Regions from separate parts of the Homo sapiens genome. Here region 1 is linked to region 2. Evidence: fine-mapped expression QTL. A gene starts in region 2. The other region holds a variant in brackets. All regions are shown on one strand. Distances are between the middles of the regions.

What was found. PIP is the estimated chance that this variant, and not a neighbour inherited with it, causes the effect. A credible set is the group of variants that fine-mapping cannot tell apart.
Region 1: its variant is the best candidate, but not a certain one, in a credible set for the expression of AMN in whole blood (TOPMed, PIP 0.58).

What each region holds. Positions count from the first base shown.
Region 1 is chr14:102,853,042-102,863,877 of GRCh38, forward strand. All of the region lies in intron 2 of TRAF3 (TNF receptor associated factor 3), which reads left to right. Among named protein-coding and RNA genes, the nearest start is that of AMN, 64 kb to the right of the region's middle. The variant T/G (reference allele first, on the strand shown) is at 6,379.
Region 2 is chr14:102,916,904-102,927,547 of GRCh38, forward strand. It overlaps AMN (amnion associated transmembrane protein), which reads left to right and starts at 5,760. Exons shown (of 12, transcript NM_030943.4): 1 at 5,760-5,828; 2 at 6,808-6,926; 3 at 7,032-7,076. The coding sequence starts at 5,786. RefSeq lists silencers at 5,984-6,183, 7,347-7,545.

The DNA.
Region 1 (10,836 bases), 64 kb before region 2:
CAGGCTCACACCACCACGTCCGGCTAATTTTTGTATTTTTAGTAGAGACAGGGTTTTGCCATGTTGGCCAGGCTGGTCTTGAACTCCTGACCTCAGACGATCCTCCTGCCTTGCCTCCTAAAGTGCTGGGATTACAGGTGTGAGCCATTGCACCTGGCCTTTATTTTTTTTTAGAGGCTGACTGAGTTTTGCTGTGTTGCCAAGGCTGATCTCAAACTCCTGGTACTTCAAGCAGTCCTCTTGCCTTGACCTCCCAAAGTGCTGGGATTACAGGTGTGAGCTACCACGTCCTGCCTGCTAGCCATTTTTTTATGTTCGTGGTGGTGGTAAGGAGTGGCTACCAGGCTGTGCGGGATTCAGGAATCTGGATGTTCCCCCCACCACCGTTTTTTACCCCACGAAAAAAATTGTAAACACTTTCTAATTGAGATAAAATTTACAAAACAAAATTCACCACTTAAACCACTTAAAGTGTACAACTCAGTGGCTTTGTGTATATTCAGAATGTTACGGCCGGGCGTGGTGGCTCATGCCTGTAATCCCAGCACTTTAGGAGGCCGAGGCGGGCAGATCACCTGAGGTCAAGAGTTCGAGACCAGCCTCGCCAACATGGTGAAACCCCCATCTCTACTAAAAATACAAAAAAATTAGCTGGGCATGGTGGCACACTCCTGTAACCTCAGGCAATTGGGAGGCTGAGGCAGCAGAATTGCTTGGGCCCGGGAGGCGGAGGTTGCAGTGAGCCGAGATTGCGGCACTGTACTCTAGCCTGGGCGACAGAGGCAAGACTCCGTCTAAAAAAAAAAAAAAAAGAATGTTATGCAACCATCACTACTATCTAATTTCAGAATATTTCATCACCCCAAAAAGAAACCCCATACCACTAAGCAGGCACTCTCCATTCTTCGCTTGCCCCAGCCTCTGGCAACCACTAATCTACTTTCTGTATCTATGAATTTGCCTATTCTGGACATTTCATGTAATAGGAATCATACAATATGTGGCCTTTTGTTTCTGACTTCTATAACTTACATAATGTTTTCAGGGTCCATCCATGTTGTAGCATATATAGTACCTCATTTTTTTTTATGCCTAAGTAAGAGTTCATTGTATGAATAGACCACATTTTGTTTATCCATTTACCAGTTGACCATTTGAGCTGTTTCTACTTTTTTTTTCGCTATTGTGAATAGTGCTGCTGTGAACGTTTGTGAACAAGTTTTTGCGTGAACAGACTGGTTCTCTTGGTATATACATAGAGATGGAATTGTTGGGTCATACGGTAATTCTGTGTTTAACTTTTGGAGGAACTGCCAGATTGTTTCCACAAGGGCTGCACCATTTTACATTCCTGTCAACAATATGTGAAGATTCCCATTTCTCCATATCCTTGCTAACACTTGTGATTTTCTGTTTTTAAAATTTTAGCCATCCAAGTGACTAAGTGGTTATAGTAGGTTTTGGTTTTGGTTTTGAGACAGAGTCTTACTTTTGTGTTGCCCAGGCTGCAGTGCAGTAGTGCAAACATGGCTCACTGCAGCCTCACCTCCTGGGCTCAAGTGATTCCCACCTCAGCCCCCCAGATAGCTGGGACTACAGGTGTGCACCACCACACCCAGCTATTTTTTGTATTTTTTTGTAGAGATGGGGTTTTTTACTGTGTTGCCCAGGCATGTCTTGAACTACTGGCTTCAAGTGATCTGCCCACCTCAGCCTTTCAAAGTGCTGGGATTATAGGTGTCAGCTGCCGCACCTGGCTGTTTTTTTTTTTTTTTTTTTAACAATGTTTTAAAATAAATTGTGGTGAGATACACATAACATTAGCCATTTAAAAGTGAATGATTCAGTGGCATTTTGTACATTCACAGTGTTCTGCACCATGATCTCTATCTGGTTCCAACACATTTTTTTCGTTCCCAAAAGGAAACCCCATACCCATAAGCAGTGAGTCCCCATTATGCCTCCTTTCAACCACTGGTAACTACCAGTCTGCTTTCTGTCTTGTGGATTTCCCTATTCTGTATGTTTCATGTAGATGAAATCGTAGTGTGTGCCCTTTGCTTCTGACTTACTCACTTAGCATGTTTTCAGGGTTCATCCATGTTGTAGCATGAATCAGAACTTGATTCCTTTTTAAGGCTGAATGGTATTCACTGTCTGGATAGATTACATTTTGTTTATTCATGTATTGATGGACATTTTGGTGGTTTCTACCTTTTTGGTTGTTGTGAAGAGTACTGCTGTGAACATGTGTATACATGTGTTTCTTTGAGTACCTTTTTTCAGTTATTTTGAGCATGTACCTAAGAGTGGAATTGCTGGGTCATATGGTAAAATGTTTTAACTTTTTGAGGAACTGCCAGCCTCTTTTCCTTAGTGGCTGAACCATTTTGCGTTTCCACAGCAGTATATGAGGGTTTCAGTTTTTCCACATCCTAACACTTGTTATTTTCCTTTTTTAAAAAAATTATAGGCCAGGCGCAGTGGCTCACACCTGTAATCCCAGCACTTTGGGAGGCCGAGGCAGGCAGATCACCTGAGCTCAGGAGTTTGAGACCACCCTGGGCAACATGGTGAAACCCCATCTCTACTAAAATACAAAAAATTAGCCAGGCGTGGTGGCACCAGCCTGTAGTCCCAGCTACTAGGGAGCCTGAGGCACGAGAATCACTTGAGCCTGAGGGATGGAGGTTGCAGTGAGCCAAGATCATGCCACCGCACTCCAGCTTGGGCTACAGAATGAGACTTTATCTAAAAAAAAAAAAAAAGGCCAGGTACGTTGGCTCATGCCTGTAATTCCAACATTTTGGGAGGCCAGGGTGGGAGGATCACTTGAGCCCAGGAGTTTGAGAACAACCTGGGCAATATAATGACACCCCGTCTCTACAGACAATAAAATAACTAGCTGGGCATGGTTGTGTATGCCTGTATTCCCAGGTATTCGGGAGGCTGAGTTGGGAGGATTGCCTGAGCCCAGGAGTTCAAGGCTGCAGCAAGTCACGTTCACACCACTGCACTCCATCCAGCCTGGGCAACAGAGTAAAACCCTGTCTCACAAAAAAAAAAAAAAAAAAAAAAAATTACAGCCATCCCAGTGGGTGTGAAGTGGGAACTCACTGTGGTTTTGATTTGTATTTTCTTTTTTAAGTGAAAGCAAGTTTATTAAGAAAGCAAAGGAATAAAGAATGGCTATTCCATAGGCAGAGCCCATTGCCACTCAGCTGCTTATACTTATTGTTACTTCTTGATTGTATGCTAAACAAGGGGTGGATTATTCATGAGTTTTATGGGAAAGGGGTGGGCAGTATCTGGAACTGAGGGTTTCTCCCCTTTGTAGACCATACAGGGCAACTTCCTGACGTTGCCATGGTATCTGGAAACTGTCATGGTGCTGGTGGAAGTGTCTTTTAGCATGCTGATGCATTATAATTAGAGTATAATGAATAGTAAGGACAACCAGAGGTCACTTTCATCGCCATCTTGGTTTTGGTCAGCTTCTTTACTGCAGCCTGTTTCATCATTAAGGTCTTTATTACCTGTATCTTGTGCCGACCTCCTGTCTCATCCTGTGACTTAGAATGCCTAACCTCCTGGGAATGTAGCCCAGTGGGTCTCAGCCTTATTTTACTCACCCCCTATTCAAGATGGAGTTTCTCTGGTTCAGACACCCCTGACATGTTTCCCCCCTCCCTTTTACAGCAGAACCCTTAATCCTAACAGTCGTAGAGGGACAAAGATCCATCTTCTGTAACTTCTTCAGGCTGAATGGGGCGATGATATTCCTGCCTAACTATGAGGGTCTCTTGTATTCAGGGTAGAGAAGAGCTCAGTCAGAAAGCATCAATATGGTGAGGGCCATTCATAGCTCTGAGTTCCAACAAAAGGTGGTATCTGGAAGATTAATAAGTGTTCAGTTTAAGAAAACATTCAGTAAACTTATCCTGCATTCCTACACAAAGAGTACAACAGCAATATATTCCACAACAGTAAAGTAGAATAACTAAAATTATCCTGAGTAAACTAAACAAGAAGGCTTTCCATGAACTGGGCAGTTGTTGAAACCAAACTGATACATCGGGTTGCTAGCCGACTCCAGTATGTGCCCAGAATTAGAATATTGATCCAGATTTTTACATTACCCATCTCTCTTGTTTCTTGTGAGCAGCAGCCAGAGATCACTGATTGGTTCACAGGAGTAAGCAGGGTTAGCCTAAGTTGCAGAAAAAAAACTTAAAAACAACTGATGAGACTAGAATCTAGTAACAGGTGTACCAAGTTCCTGAAACATAATTTATTTTCTCTCTCCGGTCTCCCATTTTTACTGAAGACAAATCATGGTACAACTGATTTGCTTTATTATACTTGGCCTGATTATTTGTATAAAGTGCAGCAAGAACAGTTATTTTTCACATAGGTTTTTAAAATTGGCTTTGATGAAACTTCATTCCATAAAAGGAAGCTTAGATAAGACTTTTTGTTAAAGCCAAGCCCAGCCATGGGTTTGTACCCTCAAATAACCTGTGAGTTGGGAAATTCCTCTCCTCTTGAGGTCCCAAGATGGCGTGGGGTTCCTGGGCCTGTCGGAAAGTGACATTCTTTACTAACCACAGGTCAGGAACCCTGCACAGGAACTGTGTAGACAAGGTATGAGGCCAGTTTTCCCAAGGAACTTTTATTGGCTCCATAAGTCAAGTTTGAGTCCTTAAAGGAAAGCACACCATTCCCATCAAAGTCCTGGTAAAACAACTAGTTTCTCTAATTGTGTCCTGTTGCAAAAGAAAACAGATTCTTATTGCACTTGTGCAAATAACTATATTGCCATAAGTTAATACTCACAAATAGTTTCCAAATTCCAGAGAAAGCAGGTAGAGAAAAACAAATATGCTCCAAATTTTGTTCACAGGAGTATACTTTACTCAATTGTCAAAAGCTGTAAGTAGCTCAAAAGTTTTCTTGGCTCTGAAAAACAAAAATGATCAGCAACGTTTTAAGCAAAAAGTCAGAAAAGATTACTTGAGTCTTTTGTTCAGTCCATGCAGTTAACTCCTGTTCTACTTGATATTCATAATCATTTCAGCTCTCCATGAGAGTCCTGAAAGAACCTCTGTTCTTCTTTTTTTTTTTTTTCTTGAGACAGTCTCACTCTGTCGCCCAGGCTGGCATGCAATGGCGTGATCTTGGCTCACTGCAACCTCTGCCTCCTAGGTTTAAGCGATTCTCCTGCCTCAGCCTCCTGAGTAGCTGGGCTTACAGGTACGCACCACCACGCCCAGCTAATTTTTGTATTTCTTAGTAGAGACGGGGTTTCACCACATTGGTCATGCTGGTCTCGAACTCCCAACCTCAGGTGATCCACCCACCTCGGCCTCCCAAAGTGCTGGGATTACAGGCGTTAGCCACTGCACCCGGCCTAAGAACCTCTATTCTAATGTCACAATCTCCAAAGTTATTAGAAACCTGCATCCAAGAGCACCTGTTGAAGTCCTATAATAGCTGACTATAAACCACCTTTTGAAGAGGATCAACACAGCAGTTGTCTGTGGTTGACAGAAAGTCTTAAGGCAGCCACTATTAAAGGCACAATTGACTAGGAATTTTGATTACTTTTGTGGCATACGATTTTACATAATAATTGTAATTATTAGTAACATATGCTAAGTCATATCACAATTCTAGGAGTTTCCCATTACTTTGGAACACATACCAATAACATATTTATATAAATACAGGTCAAAGAAAGCCAAACACCATTTCATATTTGACAGTGCTTCCTGTATGATTTTTATACCAAATAAGCCAAATTTCACCATTGCATTAGTGTACTATTAATGTTAAACCCAATTCTTAATAAAACATTATAGACAAATCTACCCAATTTTAATGTCAGACCAGAAGGTAAGATTCTTATAAACCTTTTATAACCCTTTACAAATTTTTGTTAAAGAGCAGATCAGTGCTCTAAGAAAACCTTGTTACGCTTTTATTCCAGTGTTCAATTTACGGAACTGTATCATACCCCTTTAACTTCAGCCAGTATGTTCACACACAGAATTTCTTTTAAAAGATTAATTTTTCACAAAATTTCCACAACTTTTGCAAACCTTCAGCTTTATCCTAACTTAAAACAATCCCTTAACCCTTTAATTTAGGCCAAAAAAAAAAAAAATCCACATTCACATGTCTCCTTCTCTTTTACCAAAAACACATTTCACTTTCCCTACACACCTTGCATGTAAAACTGTTTTTCCAGTAGTCTCAAGTAGATGTTACACTGTTAACTCTTAGCAGTGTTTATTTTTAGTGAAAAACTTGGTAAGCAATTTTAATTATGTACTAGGTATGGAGCCTAGGACACCAGGCAGAAGTGCAGATAAGGTC[T/G]GACACTTACTAGCATAGCTAGGAGGCATGGCTAACTCCACATGTCCCTAGGCCTTACCTAGAATCTAATGGCTGTAGGTAAGTTTAACAATTTTCAAAAGTCAAAGAGGCAGTTTATAAAGTTAAAGCGTTTAGCAAACCTAAAATTTGACCTGCCTGATTTAGACCGAATGTCTTTATTTTACCAATAATCTTTAAAATTTTCTTTACTTCCCACAGCTTAAGTCACACGAATTAAAAGGCATTACGCTTTTTATTTTTCTGACAAAATATTTGATTTAAACACTTATTTTTAAGCCAATTAATCAAAGCCTTTTATATCACACACACAACACATATAAATACACAGACAGAAGAAAATGTAGTAGTTGTAAGGTTTTTCCTTTGCCAGTTTCTTAATTGGATTAGTGGCTTTATGGTGGAGCCCTGGAGGAACAGGGCAAGGAAAGCATGCAGTTTCTATGGCCTAATAAGCAGGCACAATTGGAAGGCAAGACAGAGCCCCAAAACTTGAGGGTCCCATTTTTATATTGATCCTGGATCCCCCAAAGAGAAACGCTACAGAACACAACAGTGCAATGATTTTACCACATATTTCATTGCCAGGCAACCCAGAGCCAATCAGCCCTTTCTGAGATCAGCCCATCCCCCATGGGAGTCTTATCTCTCAGTGGGGAAGGGTGAGGACATCTCCATACCTTCCAGGTGGCCAAGAGCATGCTCTTAATCCAGACACACAAAGATCCAAGTATCCCCCACAGTGCCATTTAGCCATCCCCAAAAGTATTAAATGTATTTCCTACCTAGTTATATTACACACCAAAGTTCTCTCATAATGTGAAGTAATTTCTGATACCCCCAAAGTAAAAAACAGATAATGCAGTGCAAAACAGAACAGAGCCATAGATTTTGAGAGGGATCTATCCACTTTTAATAATTCTCGGGGTTCCATGAGGAAAATAGAGGTTTTTCCCAAAACAGGGTATGTGGTGCCTCCTCTGTTTTTCCTAAGAAGTCCCAGGCTGTTAGAGCTTGAATATCGACTTTTAATTAAGCTGACTTTTAACCATAGCACTCTTTAAAAAGTCGTTTTAAATATCTTATTACCCAACTTTAGCCACGCCAAACTGCCAATATTCCTGGCTTTTTAACTTTTCCAAATGTAACCTCCCAGGTGCTGAGAGAAAGGAAAATTTAAGACAGTTTATGAAAGGGAGGAGAATCAACAAATGGCACAGGTCACCCAAATGCCAACCAGAAAGTGCTCATTTTCTAGGCTAAAAATTGAACCTGAACTCAGGCCACCATTGTGAAAAGACAAAGCCTTAACTGCTAAGCTACAGCATTGGGCAGTTTCCACTGCTTTTCCCAGAAGGAGCCCAGAGCAGTAAATTTTGAGCTTGCAAAGGCTTTTAACTGCTCAAGATAATTTGTAGAGCTAACTACTACCCCAAAATCCCTGTTGCCTGGAAGGCAGAGACAAAGAGAAAGTACTGCCATATGATTACAAGGTCAAGCTCTCAGGGACATTTCTCAACATGTGGTCTTTGGGCAAGATGGTGGCCCTGAATAACAGAAAAGATAGGAAAGGGAAAGGAAAGAAAGGGAGAAAAGCATTGCCTGCAGCAGGCTGGGGAATGCAAGAAGCTCAGGGAGGCCAGAGAAAGACCCGCCCATTGCAGCTGACACTGAATCAGAAGTTCAGGTGGCTGCTTTTTGGGAGCGTAGGGATCTTTCCCAGCATTCCCATCAGCTCTAGTTTCCCCTTTTGGGGAGGAAAAAGCTCCCCATGTCCCATAATCTTGGACATGTCTAGTTCTGTCACCCACAGCCATCAGCAAAGAGTGCAAGGCAGATTAATCCAAAGAGAATAGCAGTTAACATCCCATAGTGCCAAACTGGTTCTTAGTCGAGAGGGACTCTACTGAGAGGGGCCTCCAACCCCCTAAATTTTAGGAAGGACTCTAACCTTCCTAAGTTGGGCATCAAACCCAAGTTCAGTCAAGCGTGCTTGCCTTTTATTAACAGGCACCTTTATCCCTCTCTTAGGAGAGACTCTAACTCTCCTAAGTTGGGCCTCTAACCCAATCCCATCCTTTACCCAGGTAACTGCATCCCACTTACCCAAGGTCGGCCAATCAGTGCTGCAGTCTATTTCCTTTGGGTTGGGAGTCTCCTCAGTATCATCCCTTTGGGGCTTGCCAGGAAGATGTTACCGGAAAGGGGTCCCAATCCAGACCCCAAGAGAGGGTTATTGAATCTCATGCAAGAAAGAATTCAGGGTGAGTCTATAAAGTGAAAGCAAGTTTATTATAGAAGTAAATAAAAAAGTGGCTACTCAATAGGCAGAGCAGCCGATTTGTATTTTCTTAATGATATTGATATTGGACATCTTTTTATGCGCTTGTTGAATATTTCAGTATCTTCCTTGGAGAAACGTTTATACAGATCCTTTGCTCATTTTAAAATTGGGTTGTCTTTTTGTGGTTGAGTTATAAGAGTGCTTTATATATATCCTGGATGCTAAACCCTTATTAGATATGTGATTTGCAAGTATTTCCTCCCATTCTGTTAATTGTCTTTTCACTTTATTGATAATCTCATTTGGTGCTCAAAAGTTTTTCATTTTGATGAATGAAGTTCAGTTTATCTAGTTTTTTATTTTGTTGCTTATACTTTTGTTGTTGTATCTAAGAATCCATTGCCAAATTCAGGGTCATTAAAGATTTACCTCCTGTGTTTTCTTCTAAGAGCTTTCTAATATATTTTTTGGGGATCTCATTCATTTTTGAAAGATAGTTTTACTGGATATAGAATTCTTGGTTGAAAAATAGCCAGACATGATGGCACTGGCCTGTAGTCCCAGCTCCCAGAGAGACTGAGGCAGGAGGATTGCTTGATCCCAGGAGTTGGAGACTGCCGTGAGCTATGATTGCACCACACTGCACTCCAGCCTGGGTGACAGAGTAAGATCCCTTCTCCAAAAAAAAAAAAAAAAAAAATTATTGGTTGACAGATTTTTTTCTTTCAGCCCTTTAATTTGTCACCTTTCGGCCTCCATGGCTTTAGATGAGAAATCAGTTGTTAATCTTACTGAGAAATCCTTGTACTTGAAGAGTCACTTCTCTCTTGCTGCTTTCTACAGTTTGGCTACAGTGTGTCTGGGTGTGGCTCTTTGAATTTATCCTACTTGGAGTTTGTCGAGCTTCCTGGTTATGCAGATTAATGTTTCTCATTAAATACAGGACTTTTCTACCATTATTTCTTCAAACTTTTTTTTGTCTTTTTTTCTCTCTGTCTTTCTAAGACCCTATAATATGTATGTTGGTACAATTGATGGTGTCCCACAAGTCTCTGAGGCTGTTTATTTTCTTCATTATTTTTTCTTCTGTTCCTTACACTTTATAATCTCAATTATCCTATCTTTAAGTTCTCTGATTCTTACTGCTGTTTATTTCTGCTGTTGAGCCCCTGCAGTGAATTTTTCATTTCAGTTTTTGTGCTTTTCAACTCCAGAATTTTTGTTTGGTTCTTTTTTTAAACTATTTTTTTCTTTATCAATATTTTCTATTCAGTGAGACATTGTTCTGATGGATCTTGTAGATTTTTGAACATGGTTTTCTTTAGTTCTTTGAACATATTTAAAATAGCATATTTAAAGTCTTCATCCATACGTCTAATGCCTGGGCTTCCTCTTAAACAATTTCTGTTAGTTGCCTTTTTTCTGCATGTGAACCATACTTTCTTGTTTCTTTGCATGCCTTGTGATATTTTGTTGAAAACTGGAACTTTTGAATTTTTACCGTGGCAACTCTGGAAATGAGATTCTTCCTTCTCCCCCAGGGTTTATTGACTGCTTGTTACAGTCATTGTTTGTATAGTTACTTTTCTGAGCTAATTTTATATAGTATATATTCTTTATCATGTGTGGCCTCTGAGTTCTCTGTTCCATTAATATAGTGGTCAGCTTGTGATTAGACAGAGATTTAAGCGCCTAGAACAAAAAATGTCTCCCAGTCTTTTGAGATGAGGTCTGTGTGTATGTTGGAGCACACCTTCAACACTCAGCCAGGCATTTGACGGTGATCCCTGAGCATTCGCTGCCTGCTTGCACAGATCCTGAAGGTCAGCCAGAGGTGAAAGCCTAGGGCCTTTTCAGGTCTTTCCTGAACATGTACACAGCCCTGGGCATTTGTGGAGCCTTCTGGATTTCCAAGAATGTGTCAGAGCTTTTCAAACCTTTATTTTCCAAAACATCTTACTCCTCAGCTTTTCTTCCCAAGCTTTTGGTTAAATCTATTGTTTGCCTCAACTGTTATTCAGTGCTTCAGGCAGCAGCAAATATGTTTGTCTGTAAATGTTTCCAATAACCTTTTCCCATCTTTCCCTAGTAGATGCCTCAGCACTGGGAGGTAAAGTCAAGCCCTTTGAGCCAGTCTTCCAGGGACTCAGTAGACA
Region 2 (10,644 bases):
CGGAGACAGACACAGGGACCAAGAGACTGAGACAGCCTCTAGATGCTGAAGCCTGCGCTGAAGCAGTTGGGCCGTGAGAGGTTCTTCTTACTGGAGGAAACTCCGGGGCTTTGCATTTCTCCACGTCCCTGCTGAGGTTCTGAGCCATTTGCAAGTTTGTGCCCTCATGTGTGCCTGAGGGCCGGGGGCACCTGTGCATATGCTCAAGGGCTTTCTGTGCACACATGGCACCTGCAGTGCGGTCGCAGCCATTCCTCAGCTCACATCTTTGCATGTGAGTGGTTCTGGTACCGCTTGTCTGCCCAGCGCCCTGGTGCCTATCTGCTGCCTCATGTGAGCTCGCTGGGCCACCCTCTGACTGCTGGACCCACCTCCAGAGGCCACTCAGGGCAAGAGAGATGGATCCCAATACCCCACCCAGCCAGCCCCAGCCCCCTATGGTCTGCCACCTTCAATTCAACCTCCTCACTGTGGCTGCAGCTGTGATCTCATCCTTCCTGTCTCATTTTAATGCCACCTTTTTCAGGAAGCCTCCCCTGACCAGGAAGCCAAGTGGCCTCACTACCCTCTCCACACAGCACAATCTAGGAATGGCCTGCCCAGGTGGAGCAGCAGTAGTCAAAGAGGCTCCATTGCTGCCCCAAGTCCTGGCCGTCCAGCACTCTGGACTCCCCTGAGGCCCCACCATCAGGAGAGGGAGCCCCAGCCTCTGGGCCCTTTCAGTCCTGGCTGTGGCCCTGAGCACCAGGGGTGAAGTTTGCTGAGCCTCACCTGGCCCTCTGCATTTATGGTGGCGGTGGGGATGGGGGGCAGAGCCAGACACTCAGGGGTGAAGCCCAACGCAGCCCTGTCAGTCAAACTGCCTCCTTCCCACTGAGAAGCAAGACAAGGGGCAAAACAGTTGTGACCCCCAAGTATCCTGTTTGTTCCTGGTTGAGGACATGTGAGTCCAGCAAGGGGCAGCCAAACTCCAGGACCGTGAGGACCCACCCTCCCCGTCCTAGGCTGGGCCAGCACCACAGAGCCACTGAGCGCAGGGACCTCTGCTCAAGGCGATCCCTCCAAGGTAAGGGGCAATGCTGGTGGCATCAGAGATGTCGAGGCAAGGCGCCCACCCGGGACACAAAAAGAGGCAGAGCTCCCCCCAGTGGCGGCTCCTTCCTCCCCGGATGCAGCATATCACTCATGAAAGAAGCAAATACCAGGCCAAGCAAAGGGGTGCTCATGGCAGAGTCTGCAGATGAGGGGTGGGGGTGCAGGAAACAGCAGGATGGCCTGGAGGGTGGAAGGCCCTGGAAGTCTCCAAGACTGAGTAGTTTCCCTTTCACCTTCAGTCCTCTGCCTACATACCCACCTCCACCATCCTTCCTGCACCCTTCCCTAGTCACTCATCCACCATCCTGCCATTGGAACCCAGTGTAACCATCCACCATTCTCCCCCTTCCATCAGCTACAACCAGTGTCTCCCCAATCCACAAGGCACACCATCCATCTCTCCACCAGTAATCCCCTAATGACCAATTCACCACCCTCCCAGAAACTCATCTCCCCATCATCAAATCATCCAAACATCATGCACAATCCATTTGCTGTTCATCTTTCTACCTCTCTGCTTCCCAACACCCACAAATCCATCCTCCATTCACTCACCACCCAGCCATTCCAACGTGCATGATGCAGATCCAAGCATGCACTGCAGACCCATTCCCCCAACCCCCATCAATCATCCATCCATCACCTAGCGCACATTCATTCACAATTTATCCACCATGCTCTGTCCACCCACCCATTGATTTATATCCAGTAACTCCTGTACTCTTATCCATCTACCTACTGTCTCTCTACTTACTACTATCCATTCACACATCATCTAAAATTCATTCACCATTATTCATCCACCATCAATCCATCCCTCCACCATTTGGTCTTGTCCACCATCCATCTACATCCAAAATCCACAACTTTTTCTCACCCACCGTGCATTGCAACAACTATCCATACATACACATCTGTTCAACAGCTACGATTTCTCTTTCACCCATCAACCATCCACTATGCAACCATGATTCATTTTGCCACCGTCCGCCCTTTCCCTCGTTCTCCTTTATTCAACTACCATCTACCATCCATCAACCATCCTTCCATAATCACTCTTCTATCCATCCATCCACCAATAACATTCACCATCTGTGAGCTGCCATCCATACACTTACCCATTCACCATCCACAATCAACTATCTACTCTTTTTTTTTTTTTTTTTTTTTTTTTTTTTAATAGAGTCTCACTCTGTCGCCCAGGCTGGAGTGGAGTGGCACAATCTCGGCTCACTGCAACCTCTGCCTCCCAGGTTGAAGCAATTCGGCCCCAGCCTCCCAAGTAGTTGGGATTACAAATGTGCACCATCACATTTGGCTCATTTTTGTATTTTTAGTAGAGACAAGGTTTCACCATGTTGTCCATGCTGGTCTTGAACTCCTGACCTCAAGTGATACTCCATCCTCAGCCTCCCAAAATGCTGGGGTTACAGGCGTGAGCCACCGCGCCCAGCCAACTATCTGCTTTCATCTACCATCCGTCATCTGTCTGTTGATCAACTGTCCTTCTACAAAATACTATATCAACCCACCACCCATCATCCACCATTCATAACGCACCACCCATCTATCCCCATTCACCATCCACCATCACCTTCCATCTACCTACCATCCACCATCCACCATTCATAACACACCACCCATCATCCCCATTCACCATCCACCATCACCTTCCATCCATCTACCATCCATCATCCACCACCCATCTATCCCCATTCACCATCCACCATCACCTTCCATCCATCCACCATCCATCATCCACCATCCATCTATCCCCATTCACCATCCACCATCACCTTCCATCCATCCACCATCCATCATCCAACATCCATCTATCCCCATTCACCATCCACCATCACCTTCCATCCATCCACCATCCATCATCCAACATCCATCTATCCCCATTCACCATCCACCATCACCTTCCATCCATCTCCCATCCATCATCCACCATCCATCTATCCCCATTCACCATCCACCATCACCTTCCATCCATCTACCATCCATCATCCACCATCCATCCCCATTCACCATCCACCATCACCTTCCATCCATCCACCATCCATCATCCAACATCCATCTATCCCCATTCACCATCCACCATCACCTTCCATCCATCCACCATCCATCATCCACCATTCATAACGCACCACCCATCTATCCCAATTCACCATCCACCATCACCTTCCATCCATCTACCACTCATTCATTCACCATTCATTTATCCACCGTCCATTCATGCATACATCCACCATCCATCTATCCACCATTCATCCATCCACCATCCACTCCCACTATCCATCCATCCACCATCTATCCATCCACACATTCACCATCCACCCATCCACAACCTACCATCCATTCATCCACCATTCACTCATCCACCATCCATTCTCCACCATCCATCTACCCATCCATCCCTCTACCCATTCACATATCCACCATCCACTCATCCATCATCCACAATTCACTCATCCAGCGTCCATTCATCCATCCACCCATTCACACATCCACCCATCTACCATCCACCATCCCTTCATCCACCATCCACCCATCATTCACTCACCCACCATCCACCATCCATCCATCCACCCATCTATATGTCCATTCACCCATTCGCCATCCACTCATCCACCACCCACCATTCATCTATCATCCCTCATCCACTGTCTACCATCCACCATTCATCCATCCACCCATTCACCCATCCACCATCCATCCATCCACCATCCACTTATCCACAATCTGCCATCCACCATTCGCCATTCATCCATCCATTCATCCACCACCCATCACCATTCACATCCACCATCGGCCATTCACCATCCACCATCCACCATCCACCTATTCACCATCCACCATTCACTCATTCACCACCCATCCTTCCATCCACCCACCATCCACCACCCACCATCCACCAACCACTATTCATCTTACCATCCACCATCCACCATCTATCATCCACTATCTACCATCTGCCGCCCATCCATCCACTTAATATTCACCATCTACTCATCACCATTCACTTGTCCATTATCCACCACCCACCAACCATCATCCACCTACCATCCATCATCCACCATTTATCCATTATCTACTTATCTACCATCCATTACCCATCCATTTATCATCCTATCCACCATCTACTATCCACCCATTATCCACTATCCACTGTCTATTCACTATCCACCATCTATTCACTATCCACCGTCCATCTCCATCCACAATTCACCATTTATGCAACCATCATCCACCATCTATCCATTTACCATCTATCTATTCACCATCCACCATCCATCCATTCAGCATTCATCACTCACCAAACATCCACCATTTAACACCCACTTTTTTTTTTTTGAGATGGGGTTTCACTCTTGTTGCCCAGGCTGGAGCACAGTGGCGTGATCTCCGATCACCACAACCTCCGCCTTCCAGGTTCAAACGATTCTCCTGCCTTAGCCTCCCAAGTAGCTGGGATTACAGGCATGTGCCACCATGCCTATCTAATTTTGTATTTTTAGTAGAGATGGGGTTTCTCCATGTTGGTCAGGCTGGTCTCGAACTCCCGACCTCAGGTGATCTGCCCGCCTTGGCCTCCCAAAGTGCTGCGGTTACAGGCGTGAGCCACCGTGCCCCGCCAACACCCACTCTTTATGATCTACCTGTCGGCCATGTATCCATTTATGCCATTATCCATCCACCACTCCCTGATTACCATCCATTCCTTTTCCTTTTTTTTTTTTTTTTTTTGAGACGGAGTCTCGCTCTGTCGCTCAGGCTGGAGTGCAGCGCACGATCGTGGCTCACTGCAAGCTCCACCTCCTGGGTTCACGCCGTTCTGCCTCAGCCCCCCAAGTAGCTGGGACTACAGGCGCCTTCTACCATGCCCGGTTAATTTTTTTGTATATTTTTAGTATAGACGGGGTTTCACCGCGTTAGCCAGGATGGTCTTGATCTCCTGACCTCGCGATCCGCCTGCCTCACCCTCCCAAAGTGCTGGGATTACAGGCATGAGCCACCACGCCCGGCCATTCATTCATTTTTCACTCACCATCCTCATCCATCCATTCATCACCCATCCACCCTCTATCACTCACCATCCACCCCGTCAACCATTTACCATTCATCTGCCATGCGTCCATATGCCGTACACCATGCACCATCAATGTTGCTGTCCATCAGCTGTCCCCTACTCACCATCCACTACTCTCCACCATCATCCACAATCCACCCTCCTATACCATCCACATACCATGTTCCATCCAGGATCTTCCTTCTATCATCCAACCACCACCCACAGCCCATGGGACAGGGGCACTGCGTGGAGAAGTGGACACCCAGTTCCAATGGTGAGCAGACTAGCTCAGCCCTAGCAGCACACAGGACAGAGAAAGGGGTGAATTCAAAGGTCGTTTATTCCCCCTCCCGGCAAGACACCCATTTTACAGGGTAGGTCAGTCTCGCCAAGCCCTTCTTCTTTGCCCTTCTTCCTGAGAACCTAAGGTGTTCAGGCCCTGCAGGGGCGGGTAAGGGGAGGCTGAGAAGGTGCCTCCCAGGGGCCTGAAGAGTCGGCCCTGGGCGGGTCTGGAGGTAAATGTGTAACCGACCCTGGTGCCCCCACCCGACCTGCCTGGTCACGTGGGTCCAGTGGGGCAAAGTCTCCTGGTGGGGTGCAAGGAGCCGAGGCGAGATGGGCGTCCTGGGCCGGGTCCTGCTGTGGCTGCAGCTCTGCGGTGAGCCGGGACCACACCGGTGCGGGCCCGGACGGTAGCGGTCTGTCAGGACCCAGGGCCGAGGTCGCTCTAGGCCTGGAGGGTGAAGATCTTCCGAGGAGTGGGCAGGGAGGGCTTTGGAGGGTTGGGGGCGTGAAACTCGGCCCTGCCTCCCTCGTCTGGCGAGTGCGCAGCCCGGAAGTGCGCGGCCAGTGCATCGGGCGGTGCGGGAGAGGAGAGGAGGGGCTCCGGGAACCTCGGCCAGCCCCGGCCTCCGGCGGCTCCTGCCCTCGCGGTTTTTCCGTCTGCGAAATGGGCGCGGTCCCCAGAACCTGCCGAGAGCAGCGAGTGTGCGCCTGCGGGGCTCGGCAGACCGCCTCAGCTTCCCGGTCCCCAAGGGAGCACTGAGCCCTCCTCCGCCTTCACACCAGGCCGGCGCGTGTCCCTGGCGCCCCCTTCCCTAAACCCCTCGCGGCTCCCTCAGGACAACCCCACCCACCACATTCAGGGCCGGCCTGACCTGGTCCTGCCGCCCCCAGCCCCTTCTTACTTCTCATACCGGGTTGCGCTCTGTCGCAGCTCTTCCCGGCCCAGGTAGGACTCCTCCGGGAAGCCTTCCTGATTCCAAGGCCGAGAAGAGGTCTGTGCTGCCCCATCCTCCTCCATGCCCCAGTTGTCACTGTCCTTAACAACGCTGTCCTCTGCTCCAGCGCCAGGCAAACTGGGGGCAGTGCCGGGAGGCTATCTAGGCAGGCGTCCTGCAGGGCGCGTTTGAGCGGGCTCTGCAGGTATCAGTAGAAGTCCGTTGGAGAGCGCCCGGGCAGGGCGCCCACAGTCTGGCCGGGAGGGACCAGGGTCTGGGTCCGGGCCCCCGGGGATGGGGTTCCTATGCGTCCCGGGTGATCCGCGCGGACCTTCCGCACTTCTCTGGGTGGGTGGCCTTCCCTGAGAAGGGAGCATCCCGGAGAGCATCCCGGGCACTCAGTCGCCTCCTCCCCAGCACTGACCCAGGCGGTCTCCAAACTCTGGGTCCCCAACACGGACTTCGACGTCGCAGCCAACTGGAGCCAGAACCGGACCCCGTGCGCCGGCGGCGCCGTTGAGTTCCCGGCGGACAAGGTGCCTGGGAGCGCCGGCGGGGTCGGTGATGGGCCTGGACCCCTGAGACCGTGTGGCCCCGGTGGGGGTTGCTCCCGGCTCGGCTGAGGCAGCTTCTTCCTGCAGATGGTGTCAGTCCTGGTGCAAGAAGGTCACGCCGTCTCAGACATGGTAAGGCCGGGCTGCTACTGCCACTGGGCTGGGGGTTCACAGAGTCTCTGAAGCGCCTTCAGGGACTGCTGTGCCTTGAGGGCGGACCCCACCGGCATGGAGGCACTGCAGGACTGGGACTTTGGCCTCTGGAGAATATTCTAGGAGGCAGGGAGTGGGGGGGAACCTAGGGGAGCTTGGTCCCATGGTCCCAGCCAGGCTGTGTCCTGGGAGGGATGGGAGGCACCCCTGTCCCCACAGCCCTTGTGATGCCCAGCAGTGGGTGGTCTTCCCAGGAAGCGCCTGCTCCATGCCCTTCCCCCAAAGCCTTGCCTTGTCCTGGTGCCTAAAGCTCCATCTTTAGAACACTAGGGAAAGTGTCCCCAACACCCCCCCCTCTACCCACCATCCGGGTCCCTGGCCTGTTAGGAAGTGGCCGCCCAGGAAGAGGCGAGCCCACTCCTGCCTGGCTCTGCCTCCCTTCAGATCAGATCAGATTCTCCTAGGGACCCCTATTGTCACTGCGCCAGCGAGGGGCCTGGGTGGGTGTGCACTCCTTAAGTGGCTGACATCTGAGATGGGACAGCTTAATCCTGAAACCTTCCCCACTCCCATCAGTCCATGGAAGAACTGTCTTCCACAAAACTGGTCCCTGGTGCCAAAAAGGTTGGGGACTGCTGCCCTAGGGGACCTTTTTCTCAAACTGCTTCACACAACACTCCAAGAACATGATGGGAACTGGGAGGAAAGCGGGTTCCATGAGTAGGTAAGTTTGGGAAATGCTGCAGCCTGCACTTTCCTGGAGCTTCATCACGTATTAAAGGCTCTGATAAGGCCCCAGAGAAAGAAGCTAATTTCCTTGTTTAAGGTGGAGTTCCGCAAGCTACAGGCCAAATGCAGCCCCTACGGGTGGAGCAAGGAACGGTTTTTACACTTTGTAATCGTTGGGGAAAAAAAGAACAATCTTTTGTGGCACTTGAAAAATATATGACATTCACACCTCAGCGACAGTAAATACAGCTTCACTGGCACACAGCCTGCCCGCTTGGTTGAGTATCCTCGGTGGCCACTGTCCCATTGCATCGGCAGCCCACCAGCTTCCAGGGTGACTGTGGGGCCTGCAGGCCAAGCCTCTGGGCAAAAGCTTCCTTCCAGCCCCTTCACAGCCACTCCTGGGCTGCGTCCTCATCCTGTCACCTGCACACCTGCCAGCTCAGTCACTCCTGAGTGAGGGTCACTGGTGAGCTGGGTCGGGGTGTCGGCTCCAGATGTGGGGTCCAGGCCTGGGGCCCCCGCGTGTGCGGGTGGGGAGGATGGCTCAATGGGCTTGGCCTGGCCCATTCCTGCCCCATGCGGGGTCAGGGACCCTGGGCCTCATTTCCACCCCAGGGCCGCTTGGTTCCTTCCTTCAGGTTTTCCAAAGCTGCCTTAACCCAAAAGCTGCCACACACTGGGGAGGGCACCCACAGCAAGATGGCGACGCTCCCACCCGGGAAACAGGAGGAGGGCAGGGAGAGGGAGGCGGTTGCCCCTTGTGGCCCGGCCCCCAGAACCCACGCATAACCTTGGCAACCAGGCAGCCCGAGTGAGGGGGGCACTGGGAGCTGATGGGGGACCTGTGGGCAGAGGAGTCAGGCTGGGCTGGGGGTTCCAGGGCATGGATTTCCCCCTACTCCCCTCCCCTGCCGGCCTCCTTACTTTCATGATCTCCTTTGGAAGCACTTGGGCTCTGAAAGGAGGCAATACTCCATTCATTCATCTATTCAATAATTCATTCATTGATCATCCATTGGCCGGTGGGAACAGCGCAGGGGCAGGGGACAGTGGCCCCAGGGTCCCAGCCTGCAGAGGCCGAATTCACCCAGAGCCGCCCAAGCACCCCCATCCCCTGCCCGCGTCGGCTATGTTGCCCTCCACACCCCTGGCTCCCAGCTTCATCCATCTGCCTAGATGAGGCCCGAGTAACAGGCCGTGCACATCAGTGCCTTACTTTGTAATTCTGTGGTTGGGAGCGTCCCTCCCTGCGATTTTCCTTTTCCTTGCCCTTCCTCCCATTTCTACCTTTTGCCTGCTTTCTTGTTGGGGGAGTCTCCTGTCTTTCACCCATCCCCCTGCCTTGGCTGGAGGCTTTGCAAGTCTGCTCACTGTGGACTTGCCTGCAGTGTCCTGTGCTGAACAGAAACCTTCATTTTAATCGACCTAATGCAAAACGCCTTACCTTAGAACTGTGTTTTTTCTGTTTCGTTTGAGAATCGCGTCTGCTCCTCAGTCACAATGGTAATGGACTGTGTACCTATGGGGCACGTGCACCAGCGAGGGCTCCTGCTGTGTTTCTCTCCTTAGAGTGAACCCAGCTTCCAGCATCCTCCGCCTTGCCCTTTTGTTCTAGCACTGCTGGAATCCGTCGTGTGCCTGGGTGTTGTGGGTCTCTCTGAGCCTTGTCTTCAAGTCCACAGGCCGCTTTGCCGACCCTACACTATCCACACAGTGGCTCTGCAGGATGGCTTAATATCCATCCCCTTCACTCCTGCTCCAAGGTTCTTTGTGGATCTCATTGTTGCAGATAAATTGTAGAATAGGTTTGCCAGGTAACAACTACCACCACCACCACCAAAAAAACCCTGGATTTTTTTTTTTTTTTTTTTTGAGATGGAGTCTTGCTCTGCCACCCAGGCTGGAGTGCAGTGGTGTGATCTCGGCTCAGTGCAACCTCTGCCTCCCGGGCTCAAGCGATTCTCCTGCCTGAGCCTCCCAAGTAGCTGAGACTACAGGAATTTTGATTGGGATAAATAACAGCCTTATGCTGTCAAGCCATCCATTCAAGAGCATGGACGGACTCTCTCTAAATATTTCAGGTCATCCATGGCCTCTTTAGCATCTTAAAGTTTTCCCTGTAGAGGTCTTATATTGTATTGGTTAATTCATCAATACTTTGTTAAGTTTGTTTTTTTGAGACAGGGTCTCACTCTGTTGCCCAGGCTGGAGTGCAATGGCGTGATCACGGCTCACTGCAGCCTTGACCTCCCTGGGCGCAAACAATCCTCCCACCTCAGCCTCCCGAGTAGCTGGGACTACAGGCTTGTGCCACCACGCCCGGCTAATTTTTGTAGTTTTTGTAGAGATGGGGGTCTCACTATGTTGGCCAGGCTGGTCTTGAACTCCTGGGCTCGAGTGATATGCCCGCTTCGGCCTTCCAAAGTGTTGGGATTACAGGCATGAGCCACCGCTCCTGGCCTTAAGTTTGGTTTCTATTATAAATGTTGCCCTATATTTAAAAATTATATCCTCTTTTTATTTTTAAATTTTTTGTAGAGATGGAGTCTCACTATGTTTCTCACCAGGCTGATCTCAAACTCCTGGCCTTACCTACTGTGCTCGTCTGTTCAACTATTATGTTACGTTTCTATTTTTCCCCTTCGTTCTTTAAAAAACGGTGTTCTTGGTATGCTTCCTCCTGGGAACCCCTCCCTGTTCCTGAGGCGCTTTGAGCTATGACACATTCCGTCCCCACGGCTCCACCTCTGCACCTGTGGGGGGACTTGCCCTGCTGGCAGTGCCACACCCTCAGGTGTGCACGGAACTGAAGTGT